2 separate regions of the Homo sapiens genome follow, and region 2 is linked to region 1. The links come from fine-mapping of genetic effects on gene expression. A gene starts in region 1. The other region holds a variant in brackets. All regions are shown on one strand. Distances are from middle to middle. Region 1 holds the start of TIGAR (TP53 induced glycolysis regulatory phosphatase). Region 2 overlaps TIGAR (TP53 induced glycolysis regulatory phosphatase).

Region 1 (8,339 bases):
TTGTTTGTTTGTTTTTGGAGATGAAGTCTCACTCTGTCGCCCAGGCTGGAGTGCAGTGGCATGATCTTGGCTCTGCAACCTCTGCCTCCCGGGTTCAAGCAATTCCCCTGCCTCAGCCTCCCGAATAGCTGGGATTACAGGCACCTACCACCACGCCCGGCTACTTTTTGTGTTTTAGTGGAGGAGGGGTTTCACCATGTTGGCCAGGCTGGTCTCCAACTCCTGAGCTCAAGTGATCCGCCCGCCTCGGCCTCCCAAAGTGCTGGGATTACAGGCGTGAGCCACTGTGCCTGGCCCAAGAAATGGGAAATTAGTTAACCTGTATGTGCCTTAATTCTTCATCTGTGAAATGGAAATAACTCCTACCTTGCAGAGTTACTGTGTGTATTAAATAAGACAAAATGGGAAGCTGTTTTTATTTAGGCGTTAGAAATGCACTTGGACCACCTTAAAGTGAAAGAGGTTTTACTATACAAACCGGAACTTTCAAGGTATCTGGGACTATGGCAGTTTGAGCGACCAGTGACTGGGTACTCCTTGCATTACTCACTTGTGTCTGTGTCTCTCTGTGTGTCTCTTTGCTTCTTCCATTGACTTTGCTTCTTCGTACCCTCTCCTCTGTTCTCTCACTTGTATTATTTATGGCTTCTGTTTCTTCACAGCTTCAATCACCATGCCCCTTCATAGCCCTAACTCTATCCTATGATTTCTTTCTGTGCTTTCTTTCTGCTTCACCCCTCACAGATAACTACTTAATTTCATTTTTTCAGCTCAAACTTCCAGGAGAATCTGCTGGGATGATTCATTCATTTGGGCATTCAGAACACGGACACGGACACACACACACACACACACACACACACACACACACACACACACACACACACACGATATCTGGGCCCCACTGTTAGGGCCCTCTGAATTATCCCTCCACTCTCATCCTGAAAATGCCTCCTGTTGACCTGCAAGCTGTTAGAGATGCTGAATTTGGTCCCCACTCCAATCTACTAACTCCAGAATCTACATTTTAACACTATGCCCAACTGCTTTGTGTGCACGTTCGAGTTTGTGAAGCATTGCTTTAAACTGCTAGCTCTCAGAACAGCCACTTGTATGTTGGAAACAGCTGGGGATTAAAAGCATACAGATACTGCTGCCTGAGTCTTTCCCCCAGAAGTTCAGATTTGATTTTTCTGGGGTGTAGCCTGGCAAAGGTCTCCAGACGATTCTAATGTAAAGATAGGTTTGAGGACCTCTAAACTAGTTCTGTGTCACCGCTGACCAGTTGTGTGAGCCTAGACAAATCGCTGTCTCTCTCTCGGCCATATTTCTTTTTTTTTTTTTTTGAGATGGGGTCTTGCTCTGTCACCCAGGCTGGAGTGCAGTGTTGGAATCTCGGCTCACTGCAACCTCTGCCTCCCGGGTTCAAACGATTCTCCTGCCTCAGCCTCCCTAGTAGCTGCGACTACAGGCACGTGCCACCATGCCCGGCTAATTTTTTGTATTTTTAGTAGAGATGGGGTTTCACCGTGTTAGCCAAAATGGTCTCTATCTCCTGACCTGCAGATTCTCCTGACCTGCCTTGGCCTCCCAAAGTGCTGGGATTACAGGCGTGAGCCACCATGCCCGGCCATATTTCTCATCTCTAAAGTGAAGATAATGTAGCCTATCCTGTCTACCTTAGAATTGTTCAGAAGGCCAAATGTGATATTACATGTAAGACTGTTTTGAAATGTGTGCCTATGAATCTAAGTATCTCATTCATCTCTTCTCTAAACACATCTTTTCATATATAAGTGGGGATTCAAGGAAATAAATGCATTATGAAATACAAGAATTTAGGTAACAGTGCATGGAAGACAATGTCACCTAGCTAACATTATTGTTACTTGTGTCACATTGCTAGGTACTGCTATCCCAGTTTACCTGTCACAAAACCCAGGGTTAGAGAAGCTCATGTTATAAATAAACTTTCAGTGCCACAAAAGAAATAGCACTCGAATATAAAATTTTCTTTTTAATTCTCAGCAAGGCAAGGTACTTCTATAGAAGGGTGCGTCCTTACAGATGGAGCAATGGTGAGCGCACACTTGGACAAGGGAGGGGAAGGGGTTCTTATCCCTGACGCACGTGGCCCCTGCTGCTGTGTAGTGCCCCACCGCACAGGCTAAACTAATTCCGATTGGCTAATCTAAAGAGAGTGATGGGGGTGAGTGGTTTGGCGGGAAAAACAGTTATGACAGAGCAGGTAATCTGAGTCAGGGTGGCGTAGGTAATGGGAAGGAGTCAGGGTGGAGTAGGTAATGGGAAGGAGTCAGGGTGGAGTAGGTAATGGGAAGGAGTCAGAGTGCAGCAGGTAATCGAAAAAGGTTGTGGCCGGGCGCGGTGGCTCACGCCTGTAATCCCACCACTTTGGGAGGTCGAGGCGGGCGGATCACGAGGTCAGGAGATCGAGACCATCCTGGCTAACACGGTGAAACCCTGTCTCTACTAAAAATACAAAAAATTAGCCGGGCGTGGTGGCAGGCGCCTGTAGTCCCAGCTACTCGGGAGGCTGAGCCAGAATGGCGTGAACCCGGGAGGCGGAGCTTGCAGTGAGCCGAGATCACACCACTGCACTCCAGCCTGGGTGACAGAGCCAGACTCCATCTCAAAAAAATAAATAAATAAATAAAAAAGAGAAGGTTGCTTTAGGAGGAAGTTAAGTTTAAAAGTAAAAAGCAAAGAATTGAACATACTGACATATTGATTCTTTGAAAAGAAATTTAGAACTCATATCTAACATGAAGCAACTCCCTCAACGTTCTGAAGGCTATTAAAGAGAAATTATTCATCTGAGGCTTGTTAAAAACGGCAAGACTTTACTCAAGACTACTGCAATAGGTGAGAGAGACTGAATTCGACTCTAGAATACAACCGGGACCAGTGGAGATTTATAGCCAGGGGGCGGGATGGAAGGGATGAAAGAGAAGATGGGAAATTACCAGAACGTGGTAAGCTATCTGGGGGAGGGGGAGGAGGAACTTTACTAGATATCAAGGGCCTTAGAAGAGAGCATCAACAGTGAGGTCTCTCTTGATAAACAGGCTTAGCAGGATTCTTTGGTAAAACCAGGCTCAGCAGGCCGAGGATGCCGTCTAGTATAGAAAAGGCCTCAAAGGAGCCCGACTAAAGTTTGGTCACGGAGGGCGTCTGTCCCGGCGGAGTTGGGGTGGGTGGGTCTAAGTCTACAGACCTGGCCGACGCTACGTCCCTAAGGTTAGGGACTAACAGACCTCATAGAACACAGTCTGTTGGTCGCTGTACACCCGTGAGGGGTTCATCACAGTGGCCAGCTATAAGACGAACGGTTGCATTCCAGCCTCAATCGCAACAACCACAAATCAGTGCGCCGGCTTCCTTATCTGCCCCGAACGCAGGCTGCCGGCTATCGAGGGAAGGAATCCTACCGCGGACTCCGCGGGCGGGGCCTCCCGCACCTGCCGCGCGCCAATCACAGGCCGGCGCGCAGGGGCGCAAGCGCCGCAGCCCTGGGCGGGGCCCCCGTGGCTCCCTCGTCTCCCCCGCCCCGTCGGCCTCGCCCGGCCCTGAGTGGCCTTCGGGGATGACGTGCGAGGCCGCCTCGGCCTATGGCGGCGGAGCCGGCCGGCTGCTTGGCGGAAGTGGTGTGGGGGAGGTAGCCCGCAGTGCAGGGGCAGCGCGGCGCGGGGCCACCGACGGGACGCGGCTCCGGGAACATGGCTCGCTTCGCTCTGACTGTTGTCCGGCAGTGAGTATGGCTGTGGCAGGATGTCTTTCTCTCTCTCTTCCTTGAGTGTGTTGGAGCGGGTGAAGGGAAAACGGGTCCACCACCCTCTCCCCTCCCTGCTCGCTCCAGCCCGGGAGGGCTGGCTTGGAAGCGCTTTTTCCGGGGCGCTTGCCCTGGGGCCGTCCCGTGTCGCCCCTCCTCTCACCCCAGCAGCCCCGAGGGACGACGGCAGGTCTTAGATAGCTTCGTTCCGTGTTTCAGATAAAGTGAGGCCCGGAGGAGCAAGGGATCGGGGTTCGTAGGCACTTGGTGGCTGCACCAAAAACGGTGCCAGACATGTCCACAGACTTGTCTGGGTACCGATTTTGCTCCCCAGCAGATTGCAAAGAGTTTGCAGAATTGCTCGTCCATGGCTGATGTTTTTGATGCCGGCTGCCTTCCGCTATCCTCTCAGTTTCTGAGGTTCCCCCTCGTTTCCCCAGGCAGTCAGCCCCCCAGGCACATATATGAGACTTCTTTCTTTTCCCCAGAGGTTACAGTTCTGGGAGAGAAAAGAGGATCACAGCTCTGATCTCAGCAGACCGTATCATCCCAAATAAATGTTTTTATTATCATAACGTTACACGGAGCTGCATGCTGATAGGTCTTTATGTATTTGCCAAGTGTTAACGGGAGGTGAAAATCAGGGTAGTTAAGAGCACAGATTTTTATTTTTATTTTTTTTTTTTTGTGAGATGGAGCCTCGCTCTGTCACCCAGGCTGGAGTGCAGTGGCGCTATCTCTGCTCACTGCAACCTCCCGCCTCCGGGGTTCAAGCGATTCTCCTGCTTCAGCCTCCCGAGTAGCTGGGATTACAGGCATGCGCCACCACGCCCGGCTAATTTTTGTATTTTTAGTAGAGACAGGGTTTCGCCATGTTGGTCAGGCAGGTCTGGAACTCCTGACCTTAAGTGATCCGACTACCTCGGCCTCGCAAAGTGTTGGGATTACAGGCATGAGCCACCGCGCCCTGCTAAGAGCACAGATTTTTCAGGCAAGGTAGACCTCGGTTGGAGTCTGTTCTCCAGCTAAGAGCCAGGTAGCCTGGACTTAAGTTTCCTGATATGCAAATGATAGTGCGTATCTCACTACTTTAATGCGAGAATTAAATGGGGGACAGGTAAAGTGTATGATGCAACAGGGAAAGAAATATATCTGAGAAATAACTTCTATAAAGAAAGCTCCAATAAAAGTGCAGTTGATTCCCAAATACGAACGTATAGTTCAGCACACCAGCATTTTGAGTAGGTAATGTGTGCCAGTAGACTGGATCATACAGATAAATAACATACCATTTCTGCATTCATGGAGCTCACAAAGGACATTAATATGATTTAACTTTGTCAATTGACTTTAACAGCTATCTTTTCTGGCCTGTCCTTCCTTTATAAGAAAGATAATCTTAAGAATCCTCTAAAATTGTCTGTTTAGGATTAGCAGGATTTTAATGGCTACCTTAGAAATCTAGTTCCTCACTATCTCTTCTCCCACCCCTCTCGGTTGTATAGAATGCCTTGGGAGAATTCTTAACTTACTAAAGGTCACACAGCTAATCGGTAGCAGAACAGGAACTAGAGGCCTGATCACCCTTTCTTCCAATGTTAGTGCACTTTCTAGACGCCTGACCCAGCCAGCCCAGTGTCATATTTATAATTGAAACTCAGACCATCAAGGTGGTTCACCCCTGTAATCCTAGCACGTTGGGGGGCGGAAGTGGGTGGATCCCTTGAGCACAGGAGTTCAAGACCAGCCTGGGCAACATGGTGAAACCTCCTCTCTACAAAAAAAAAAAAAAAAAGCTGGCTGTGGTGGTGCATGCCTGTGAACCTAGCTAATAGGGAGGCTGAGGCAGGAAGATCACTTGGATCATGTGAGCCTGGGAAGTGAGGGCTGTAGTGAGCTGTGATTGGGCCACTGCACCCCAGCCTAAGCGACACAGTGGGACCCTGTCTCAAAAAGAAAAAAAAGAAAACTCAGAAGTTGTAGAATATTTGGGGTAAGGCAACCCCTAAAAAGTAAGATGATTCCTATTTAGATTCCTAATAGACAATAGTCATATAAATATGGATTTTATTCCCTTTCTGCTGCTTAAAAAGGGTTTGATTCCGGAGGCCCTCATAGGAATCATTTAAAAAATAAGTCTTAATAAATGATTATTTGCCAGGCACTGTTGTAATTAAAATCTGACAGTTTAGTGAGTTAAGGACTGATATCCTCATTTTTCACATGAGGCAGCTGAGACAGAGACGCCTTGTAACTTGCTTAAAGTCACATGGCAAGTTGAGGAAGTAGGAGTTTAACCAAAGCAACTTTACCACTCACCGTCTTTTGTTTCCTACTTAATTTGTTAAAACCCGGTATTTGTAGATTACTTGAACATCACCAGCCATTTTTGAGGCTACTTTTTAGTCTCTTAATATAATTGTGTGGAGTTATGACAATAGTTTATTTTGTTCTGTTTTATGTGTAGGAAGATGGAGTGAGAGGGCTGGTTCAATGCTTTCCGGTCTGGATCCTCCTGCTTCTTGCCTTCAGAGTTCTCAAAACCAAAACCTGGTGATTCTTTCAGGAAAAGAAGTGATTTTTAAATTTGACTCATTATCACCATAGTTAAATGTAATGACTTTTTGAAGAGTTAGATAATTTTATTGGACTTACCTCTTCAGATAATGCAAAAAAATCTTTAAAGCAATTTAAGTTCAACAGAACCTGTTAGGAATCTTGTGCTGTTCCTGTATGTGGTTTATCTTTCTTCATACTTTGAAATGAAAGTACCAGTGTGTATCATTTCTGGAACAGACTGCCCAAGATTCCAGAATTCAAGTCTATCATCATTGTCAGACTATAACTTCTCATGAGCTTATGGCACAGCATTGTTGAAAACTCCAACACGTGTAGGTTGGCATTACCATCACCTATCCAGCACTACTGAAGGGTCTGGTTCCTTGGAATGTTGTAGGTGTTTGCAGTGAGTCCCCGGCAAAACCATCCATTTAACTTCCTTTTTTTTTTTTTTTTTGGAAATATGTGTGCCTTTATTAGCTGAGCCACTACTTGAGGGGGATGAAGCGGGAGGAGTGGGTGGCCCCGATGCCGGGCCGGCAGTGCTTCACCAGCTTATAGGTGATGGAGAACTCGCCCAGGTAGTGACTGATCATCTCCGGCTTGATCTCCACCTGGTTGAAGGTCTTGCCGTTGTAGACGCCCACCATGCTGCCCACCATCTTGGGCAGGATGATCATGTCCCGCAGGTGCGTCTTCACCACTTCCGGCTTCTCCATGGGCGGTGCCTCCTTCTTGGCCTTGCGCAGGCGCTTCAGCAGCGAGTTCTGTTTCCGCCGCAGGCCCGGGTTCACTTGCGGCCGCTGGCACGCACTGTACAGCTGCGTCAGCTGCTCGCAGGACACGTCCCGTCCCGCAGCTGGTCCAAGTCTGTGCCGCGGTAGGTGAGTTTGCGGAAGGTCCGCTTCTTCTGCTCTACCTCGGCCATCTTGTCGGATCCTCAGAAAAGTTCACTTCCATTTTTAGGCAGCTCGTAAAGCTTTAAAATTTTTTGGCAAACTAAATTTAATATACTTTTAATGATTTAAAAATGAATTAGTAAAGTTTTTTTGTTTTTGCTTTTTTTTTTTTTTGACGAAACGGAGTTTCACTCTTGTCACCCAGGTTGGAGTGCAATGGCATGATCTCCGCTCGCCACAACCTCCGCCTCCCGGGTTCAAGCGATTCTCCTGCTTCAGCCTCCGGAGTAGCTGGGATTACAGGCATGTGCCACCATGCCTGGCTACTTTTGTACTTTTAGTAGAGATGGGGTTTCTCCATTTTGGTCAGGCTGGTCTCGAACTCCCGACCTCTGGTGATCCGCCTGCCTCGGCCTCCCAAAGTGTTGGGATTACAGGCGTGAGCCACCCCACCTGGCCGAATTAGTAAAGTTACTGATAGCAAAACTGATTTTTCTTACTGTACTTTTATTGGCAGTTACTTTTTGTGTAATGCTAATAATTGTTCTGTATATTAATAAAGCAAGCAAAATACTATTAGCTCATCTGTAATTTAGTATTTTTATAAAGCTAATACTTTTATAAAATTTTAATGCTCTATAAAAGTATAAAGATACCTTGTACAGATACTTTATAAAGATCAAAGACAGCCGAAAGTCCTGCAATCCCAGCACTTTGGGAGGCCGAGGCGGGTGGATCACCTGAGGCCGGGAGTTCAAGACCAGCCTGGTCAACATGGTGAAACCCCGTCTCTACTAAAAATACAAAAAATTAGCTGGGCGTAGTGGCACTCGCCTGTAATCCCAGCTACTCGGGAGGCTGAGGCAGGAGAATCTCTTGAACCCGGGAGGTAGAGGTTGCAGTGAGCCCAGATTGCGCCGTTGCACTCCAGCCTGGGCAACAAGAGTAAAACTCGTCTCAAAAAAAAAAAAAAAAAAGAAAGACCACCAAAAGTCTTGTGTTACTAGCTCTTGAAATCTTCTATATTTGCAAATGAATGTATTAGTGTAAAGGAATTAGGACTAAGCTGTATTCGTGATATCAGGTGAGGG
Region 2 (8,339 bases), 33 kb after region 1:
ATAGATCTCTCATGTTAGCGTCTCTGAAACTCAACTTCCTTATAACTATGGTGATATATTTATTTAGCTATTTCATGGTGCTGTCATTGGGATCAAATGGTGTAGTATGTGTGGATGGGAGATGGCTGAATTGGTACCTTGTGCATGTTAATCTCTAGTCCTATAATCTGTGCAAATCTCTGTATTTGTTCAATAAATTCCCACCATCTGCTTGCAATAGCAAGTTCTTCTAAAATAACCCATTTGGACATAGTGTACAACTTAAGATTTCAATTATATTTTCTAAGGTTCATGGCCCTCTACTGAGTACATTCTCATTATCAGTTCAGAGGAGATAGAATCAATTAAGTGGAGGAGAGTTAGCTTATTCCTGGGATGAATGTTCTAAATTTGCCATAAACATAAACTTAATTGTTATATTGCAATTTCATTTGAGAAACTGTTATCTATTGGACTGTTTCAGAAATACGGGGTTGTAGAAGGCAAAGCGCTAAGTGAGCTGAGGGCCATGGCCAAAGCAGCCAGGGAAGAGTGCCCTGTGTTTACACCGCCCGGAGGAGAGACGCTGGACCAGGTATGTGGCGCTGCCGATGTCAGAATGGTTGAATTAAGACTCAAAATTAGATGTTTTGGAATTTTAGCTAAGCAGTTTGAAAGTTGCTTGGTTCATTCTCTTTTCCATTTTAAATTATCTATTTACTTAGCAAATTATTCTTTTCTATTTAAAATCTTATTTACTGTTCAGTTGCCTTTGTCATTATTGATAATGGACTTAAGGAAAGGTGTTATTAGATGGTACTTCTAAAAAAGACCTTTGAATATGAAGCAGTGGCTTAGTGGTGGGAGTGGAGTTCAAAGAGGGTGATCGGCAAGTCACTCGAGGTGAAATAACTCAAAACATGAAGTCTTCAAGCCTCTGCTGCCTCCTCAGCTCTGTTCATGGTGGCATCCCTGTGCTTGCATTTCTTTGGAGTGTTCTGCTTCGAATTGCATATTGGTGATTCCCCCTAACCCACCACCACCTCCTTAATCTTTATCTTAATTTTCTTGAAAATACTTTCCATTACTTTAGTAAGGGAAGGATTTGTTGCTGCTGTTGTTCCAGTGGCACTGAAGTGCCAGAGACAGCTTCCTGGTTAGCACTGTTTTATGAGTTTCTGTTGGCTTGTAGATTTCCCTAACTAGACCGTGAGTGCTTTGAACTCAGGAATTGGGAATTGGATCTTCTTCATCTTGGTCTCCATGGTGCTTTTGTAATTCCAGAAATGTGGTGGATACTTATATATGTCCATGAAACTACTGATTGAACGAATAGAAATGTAGATTGATATTCTTCTGCTTGTGTAGTACTTGGCATTCAATATTAGAAAAAAATCCAGTCAGTTATGTTCTATGTTAACGTTTTAAGGAAGTCATTAATGTCACTTTATTTTGACTTTTATTTCTTTTCTTGTAGGTGAAAATGCGTGGAATAGACTTTTTTGAATTTCTTTGTCAACTAATCCTGAAAGAAGCGGATCAAAAAGAACAGTTTTCCCAAGGATCTCCAAGCAACTGTCTGGAAACTTCTTTGGCAGAGATATTTCCTTTAGGAAAAAATCACAGCTCTAAAGTTAATTCAGACAGCGGTATTCCAGGATTAGCAGCCAGTGTCTTAGTTGTGAGTCACGGTGCTTACATGAGAAGTCTGTTTGATTATTTTCTGACTGACCTTAAGTGTTCCTTACCAGCCACTCTGAGCAGATCTGAACTTATGTCAGTCACTCCCAATACAGGGATGAGTCTCTTTATCATAAACTTTGAGGAAGGAAGAGAAGTTAAACCAACGGTTCAGTGTATTTGTATGAACCTACAGGATCATCTAAATGGACTGACTGAAACTCGCTAAGGTTAAATCTGCATCAAAATCTAACCATTTTGAGCCTCTGAAGGGAGTGCCATTGGCTTTATTTACTTCTCTCCTCTGCTAGTTCTGATTTGGAAACAGTTAAAAGCCAATTTTTAGCTCCAGTGGAACCATAGCCACATAAAACTTTAATGGACAACCATATAGAATTAACTTATTTTGTCCAAGTACAGTTGGCATTTTCCAGAATAATTTTACCACCCTGCTAGATGTCATCTCTGGATTGCACATGGATGATGAAGGAACTCAGCATTGAAAGTTGGGGGATTAGTAACCTTGTTACAACGGTTTCTTTTTCATTTTAGCCTATTTTAATGGCTATTGGTAAGATACTGTATGTTTTTAGTATCTCATCCAGTGCTTAGAAGAAAGAATGGTTTATAATTCCCAGTACATGTTTATATTGACTGTGTTATATTTTTAAATCCTTTAAATAAAAAATCCTTATAAGTTTATGTAAAGCAAAATAACACTAACATGTTTTACGTATAAATCAACTATTGGAATTTTTTATTCTAGAGGGCTTGAAATGTGGATGAATACAGATTATGATTGCAGAATGGTCTGGGGGAAGAAGTTAAAACATTTGATTTAAATACAGTAAAGAAAGAATCTTGGAGCAGAAGATAGAAGAACAGCCTTTTCTAAATAATGCCTTGCCAAAGTCAAGTCAATGGAAACCAGGAAAGCCAAAAAAATGAAGAATATCCACTTGCTTCTTATCTAACCTGTAGGCTGAAGAATTTCCAGTTTGAGGAAGGCTCTAAAGAAAGTAAACAGTTAACAGAACACCACACAGTAATCAGAATAAAAGAGGGGCCTTCTTTGTAAAGAATGGTGCTCTGGGCCGGGCCCAGTGGCTCACACCTGTAATCCCAGCACTTTGGGAGGCTGAGGCGGGCGGATCACAAGGTCAGGAATTCTAGACCAGCCTGGCCAACAATGGTGAAACCCTGTCTCTACTACAAATACAAAAAAGCCAGGCGTGGTAGCAGGCGCCTGTAATCCCAGCTACTTGGGAGGTTGAGGCAGGAGAATCGCTTGAACCCGGGAGGTGGAGGTTGCAGTGAGCCGAGATCGCACCACTTCACTCCAGCCTAGGTGACAGAGGGGATGACAGAGGGTGCTCTGCGGGCAGGGAAGGCGGGGTGGTTGGGGGGGAGAGAATGTTGCTCTGATAACCACAGCTGTGGTTATTTTGTGGCAGGTACAGGTGAGGTTGCCTCTTCTTTCCACCAGATGGCACTGGAGAAAAGGGATTTTGATTAACTTAATTTTATACACAAGATTGGTCTTTCAGAAATCTTTATCTAAATGAAGAAACTGTT[C/T]TACATGTAGTTCGCTTTTAAGTCACCATGTTGCTAAATGCTGTGAGTCTCAACTTTAAAGAGGGTTAATACTAAAGTTGTCAGTTAAGGCTATAGTCACATATAGTCAAAATTTACTTTGACATCATTTTAAATCATATGTAAAATTCAGTATTATATTGTTCTTAGTGTGTCTAGCACTACCAGTTTTCTACCAGTATTGAAACAGGGCACGTGTTTGAGCATCAGAGGAAGTATACTGTAAATAAAAATTTGAAAAATAAGCAAAAAGGACAGACAATAATTATCTCCATTCCCACCATACTGAAGTCATCTTTCCACTTTTTTTTTTAAAGAAACAAAACATAAAGATAAAAGTAGAGTTCTCTTTAACCAGCTCTCACAGTCCTGTTCCCTCCAGAGGCAGCCACTGCAGTGAGTCTGTGTATATGTTCACCTGTTCATCTGCTTGCAATGTTCATCTGTTCCTTATATTTTCACCTAGTGTCTGGAAGGAGATGGTACTGTTTTGGTGCTTTAAAAATAAATATCAAGCCATCTGTGTTCTTTATTTTTACTTATGTCTTGGAGGCATCTCTGTGTTGATATATATAGATCTAGTTAATTATAACCACTCTATTCTATTAAATATAGCACATTTTTGTTTATTAGTGGGCATTTAGGTATATTCAGTTTTTATTTTCTTTGCTTTTTTTCTTTTTTTTTTTTTTTGGAGACAGAGTCTCTCTCTGTTGCCCAGGCTGGGGTGCAATGGCGTGATCTTGGCTCACTGCAACCTCCACCTCTCGGGTTCAAGCAATTCTTGTGCCTCAGCCTCCTGAGTAGCTGGGACTACAGGCATGCACCACCACGCCTGGCCTTTTTTTTTTTTTTAGTAGAGACGGGGTTTCGCCATGTTGGCCAGGCTGGTCTTGAACTTCTGACCTCAGGTGATCCACCTGCCTTGGCCTTCCAAAGTGCTGGGATTGCAGGCATAAGCCACCGTGCCTGGCCTATGATGCATTTTTTTAATATGTGTTCTTAATTTTTAAGACAAACCAATATACCTTATCCTTTATGGGGTTTTTTTGGTGTGTATCTTTAAGAAGACTTCTCTACCATGAGGTCATACAGTAATGTCTTCTTACAGTTTTTGAGAACTTCTGAATGTCAAATCTTGAAATTGAAATTTGCTTTTTATAGTATAAGGTAAGAATTTAATTTTTTTTTTCATGTGGTTGAAACAGTTATCCCAACACCATTGTAAAGGCTGTTCTTTCCCAATTGGTTTGTGGTGTGTGCTCTCAGGCCTCACACCCCCTCATTTGCTAGAGTCTGTGGACTCTTTTAGTTATCTGTGTATTTCCTTATCAGTGTCATACTTAGTTACTGTGGCTTTGCAGCTGACTGTCTTAAAGGGTGGATACCTCCTCTTGTTCATTTTTAAAGTTGTCTTAACTATTTATGCACTTTTATTCTTCCATATAAATTTTGGAATCAATTGGTCAATTTCCAGAAAAATTCTGTTACAAATTTTATTGGAGTCACATGCATCTCTTCATCTATTCAATACGTATTTTTTGAGCATGGCACACACATGCCAGGCTATTTTAAGAACTACTACAACTATGATAAAGCTGTGAATATGTAGCCATGAACCAAAACAAAGTCTCTGTCCTTGTGGAACATTTGTTCTGTCAGAGAAGACAGTGTGTTGGCTCACATTGTGGTCAGTGCTGTTGAGCAAAATAGGTCAGAGTAAGGGGGATGGAGACTGGTGGGAGGAATGCTGCTTTATCCAGGATGGGCAGGGAGGACTCGATGGTGTCAGCACTGAAGGATGTAAGATCTGCTGCTCTGGGGAGAGGAGCAGCATGGAAGGAGTAGAGTGCAGAGGCCATGAGGAAGGATCAGGCTTGACTCCTTTGAGCAAGGGGGATGGGAGAGTGACGGGAGAAGAGGACAGGCCACATGGCCTGGTGGCCTGTGCTGAGGCCTTGGGCTTTTACTCAAGTGAGATGAGATGCCATTGGCCAGTTTGGGCAGTGATGTGATCAGACTTGTTTCAGCAGGACCATCCTGCTTGCAATGTGGAGAGCAGGCTGTAGGGGGTGCTATAGGAGCACAAGGTTGGAGGCAGGGAAGATGGCAGCACTGGCTGTTGGGCCATTTGAAGAAGCAAGGCCAGGGATGTTGGCAGGGACCAGGCCAGAGTGCCTCCAATGGCTAACTAAGGAGCCTGGACATTGAATTTCTAGGTTAGCTTAGGATTTCTCATCCTCCCATCTGTGAATGTCATAGATCTCTCATTTTGCCTGAGTCTTTTATGCAATGATATTTTATTTGTAATATTTTCCCGGTTTTTGATTGTTTTTTAACAAATGAATTTTTTAAGAGACTTAATTTTTTAAGAGAAACTTTAATTTCCCAGCAAAAGTGAGAGGAAGGTAGAGAGATTTCCCATCTATCCCCTGCCCCTACACACGCATTGCTTCTCCTACTATCAACATCCCCCACCAGACCAGTGCATCTGTTACCATCGGTGAGCCCACATTACACTGACATATCCACATCACCTGAAACCCATAGTTTACATTAGGGTTCATTCTTGGTGTTGCATGATCTGTGGGTTTGGACAAACGTATGAAGACATGTATTCCACCATTATAGTATCATGCAGAGTATTTTCACTGCCCTAAAAGTCCTCTGTGTTCCCTGTACTCATCTTTCCCACCTTGTCTTGCCTGTTTCTGTTAGGTTTAGTCCGAGGCCTAGCAGAGGGAATGGGCAGAAGTTTCCAGTTCCAGGCTTCACCCCAGGCTCGCAGCTTCAAGCAGAGCCTGTCGCTTAGGCTCCCTTGCACCTGGAGTCGAAACCATGGCTCCCATTCACCTGTCTCTTATTTTCCTGTCCTTCCCACTCCTCACTCACCTACTATTCATTTCCATTTTTGGATGAGGATTCTCCTTTATTGCTTTTTAACTAAAAACCTGTTTTAGTTAGCATCTTTATTCTAATTTCTTTAAATGCTATGTCATACTCAGCAAGGACATGCTCATATTAGGGGAAGCACATAAAGTAAGATATCCCTGAGAGAACAGTGCATCTCACACCCATTCCATGGCTTAGGCTTATGCAGGAAGTGCAATATTTGGCCATATCACTTAAGTACATATGCTTATATTATGTATACTTGCATGCATATTACATTTACAAGTAGATGAATTCGTGTAAGTTAAATGGTTCTATTATATGTCTTCACTATATTAAGGTCAGTCACAATTTAATTGAAATAGATCATCCTAGGTGAATCCACCTGGCATAATTATCAGCCCTGTTAAGCACAGACACAGGAGATGCAAAGGAAAGAAGTATTCAGTAGAGCGGTGGTGCTGGGCTGAGTACCTGCTATCAGACGCAGCACTTACCAGTTTGGAAATTGAATGGGGCTCCTAGAAAACATCCTTGTTTCATGTAAATGTTGCTTTTTACCCCTCTTTCTTTGGGCCCCATCAATTTGGAAGTACAGCTTTCAGATTGAAGTATGTGTCAGTTCCTTTGTGTCCAAACAAGATGGCTAAGTAGGTCGTCATGACAGGTAACTACCAGTGCTTTAAAAACTTTAGGATTTCCCCCCACAGTTCTCAATCACTTGGTTCATTGTTCAGCAATATGGCCTAAGGGGGTGATTTCTTCATTGATAAGTGACAGGGCAGGGACACTGGAAAGATCTATTGTCAGAAGGCCTGGATTCAGGTTCAAGGCCTGGTTCTTAGTAATTTTGTGACCAAGCAATCGCTGAGGTGGCTGGGCGTGGTGGCTCGCACCTGTAATCCCAGCACTTTGGGAGGCCAAGGCGGGCAGATCACGAGGTCAGGAGATAGAGACCATCCTGGCTAACACAGTGAAACCTCGTCTCCACTGAAAAATAGAAAAAATTAGCCAGGCCTGGTGGCCGGCGCCTGTAGTCCCAGCTACTTGGGAGGCTGAGGCAGTAGAATGGCGTGAACCCGGGAGGTGGAGCTTGCAGTGAGCCAAGGTCGCGCCACTGCACTGCAGCCTGGGTGACAGAGCAAGACTGGGTCTCAAAAAAAAAAAAAAAAAATCATTTGATAAATAATGGGCTGTGCATGGTGACTCAGGCCTGTAATCCCAGCACTTTGGGAGGCCAAGGTGGGTGGATTACCTGAGGTCAGGAGTTCAAGACCAGCCTGGCCAACATGGTGAAACCCTGTCTTTACTAAAAATACAAAAATTAGCTGGGCGTCTCCAAAAAAAAAAAAAAAGAAAAAGAAAAATCACTGAGCTACTGTATCCTCATAGAGAATAATTACAGTAATGTGTATGTGCGTGTGTTTTGGTAATCTTTTATCTTGGATTTATCAAACCTACAGAAAAGTTGCAAGAACAGTAGAAGGAATGGCTGTATACTCTTCACACTTATTCACCACTTGCTTACCTGTTGTCCCACTTGCTTTGCCATTTTTTCTCTCTCCCTCTGTTTTCCCCTGAAACATTGGAGAGTAACTTTGAGTCCTCATACTCTTCCCCTATAAAATTTCAATGTGTGTTTCCTGAGATCAACAATGTTCTTATATATAACCCAGAATAAATATCTGAGTCAGGAAATTTGACATTGATATTGCCTATTAGCTAATCCTTAGACCAAATTTAAATTCTGTCAATTATTTTGTTGATGTACCTGTGGCTTTTTTTTTTTTTCTGAATCAAGAATCCAATCAATCCAGGACTGTGTGTTGTGTTGCATTTAGTTGTCATGTTTCTTCATGTCCTTCCGTCTACTCCTTTGCCTTCCTTTGCCCTTCTTTTTTTCTCCCACCATCTATCTAACCAGATGAACTTTGTCTTTCTTGATCTTGTTACTTTTTAAAAAATAGGTGAGTTCTTGTGGTTTTTTTTCCTGACATATCCTCATTATTAGATTTGGATTGTATACTTTTGTCAGAAGCAGCCCAGAAAGGATGTGTCCTTGGTCATGTCAGGAGGGACAGGACGTTGTATCAATATGTCTGGTTCCTCATTAAATTTGCAACTACTCTTTTAGCCTTTATTGTTTATTTTCTGACTCTGTTTTTTTTTTCTTTAGCCAACTCACGCCATGACTC

The links.
Region 2: its variant is fine-mapped to the expression of TIGAR in lymphoblastoid cells (GTEx, PIP above 0.99). The same link has a PIP of 0.9 or more in adrenal gland, anterior cingulate cortex, monocytes, tibial artery, tibial nerve and whole blood.

The regions. Positions count from the first base shown.
Region 1 is chr12:4,317,535-4,325,873 of GRCh38, forward strand. TIGAR (TP53 induced glycolysis regulatory phosphatase) reads left to right here and starts at 3,679. Exons shown (of 6, transcript NM_020375.3): 1 at 3,679-3,769. The coding sequence starts at 3,738. It also overlaps the pseudogene RPS15P7. RefSeq lists an enhancer at 3,271-3,924 and a silencer at 3,390-3,769.
Region 2 is chr12:4,350,804-4,359,142 of GRCh38, forward strand. It overlaps TIGAR (TP53 induced glycolysis regulatory phosphatase), which reads left to right. Exons shown (of 6, transcript NM_020375.3): 5 at 464-574; 6 at 1,457-8,339. The coding sequence ends at 1,888. Among named protein-coding and RNA genes, the nearest start is that of FGF23, 25 kb to the right of the region's middle. The variant C/T (reference allele first, on the strand shown) is at 3,235.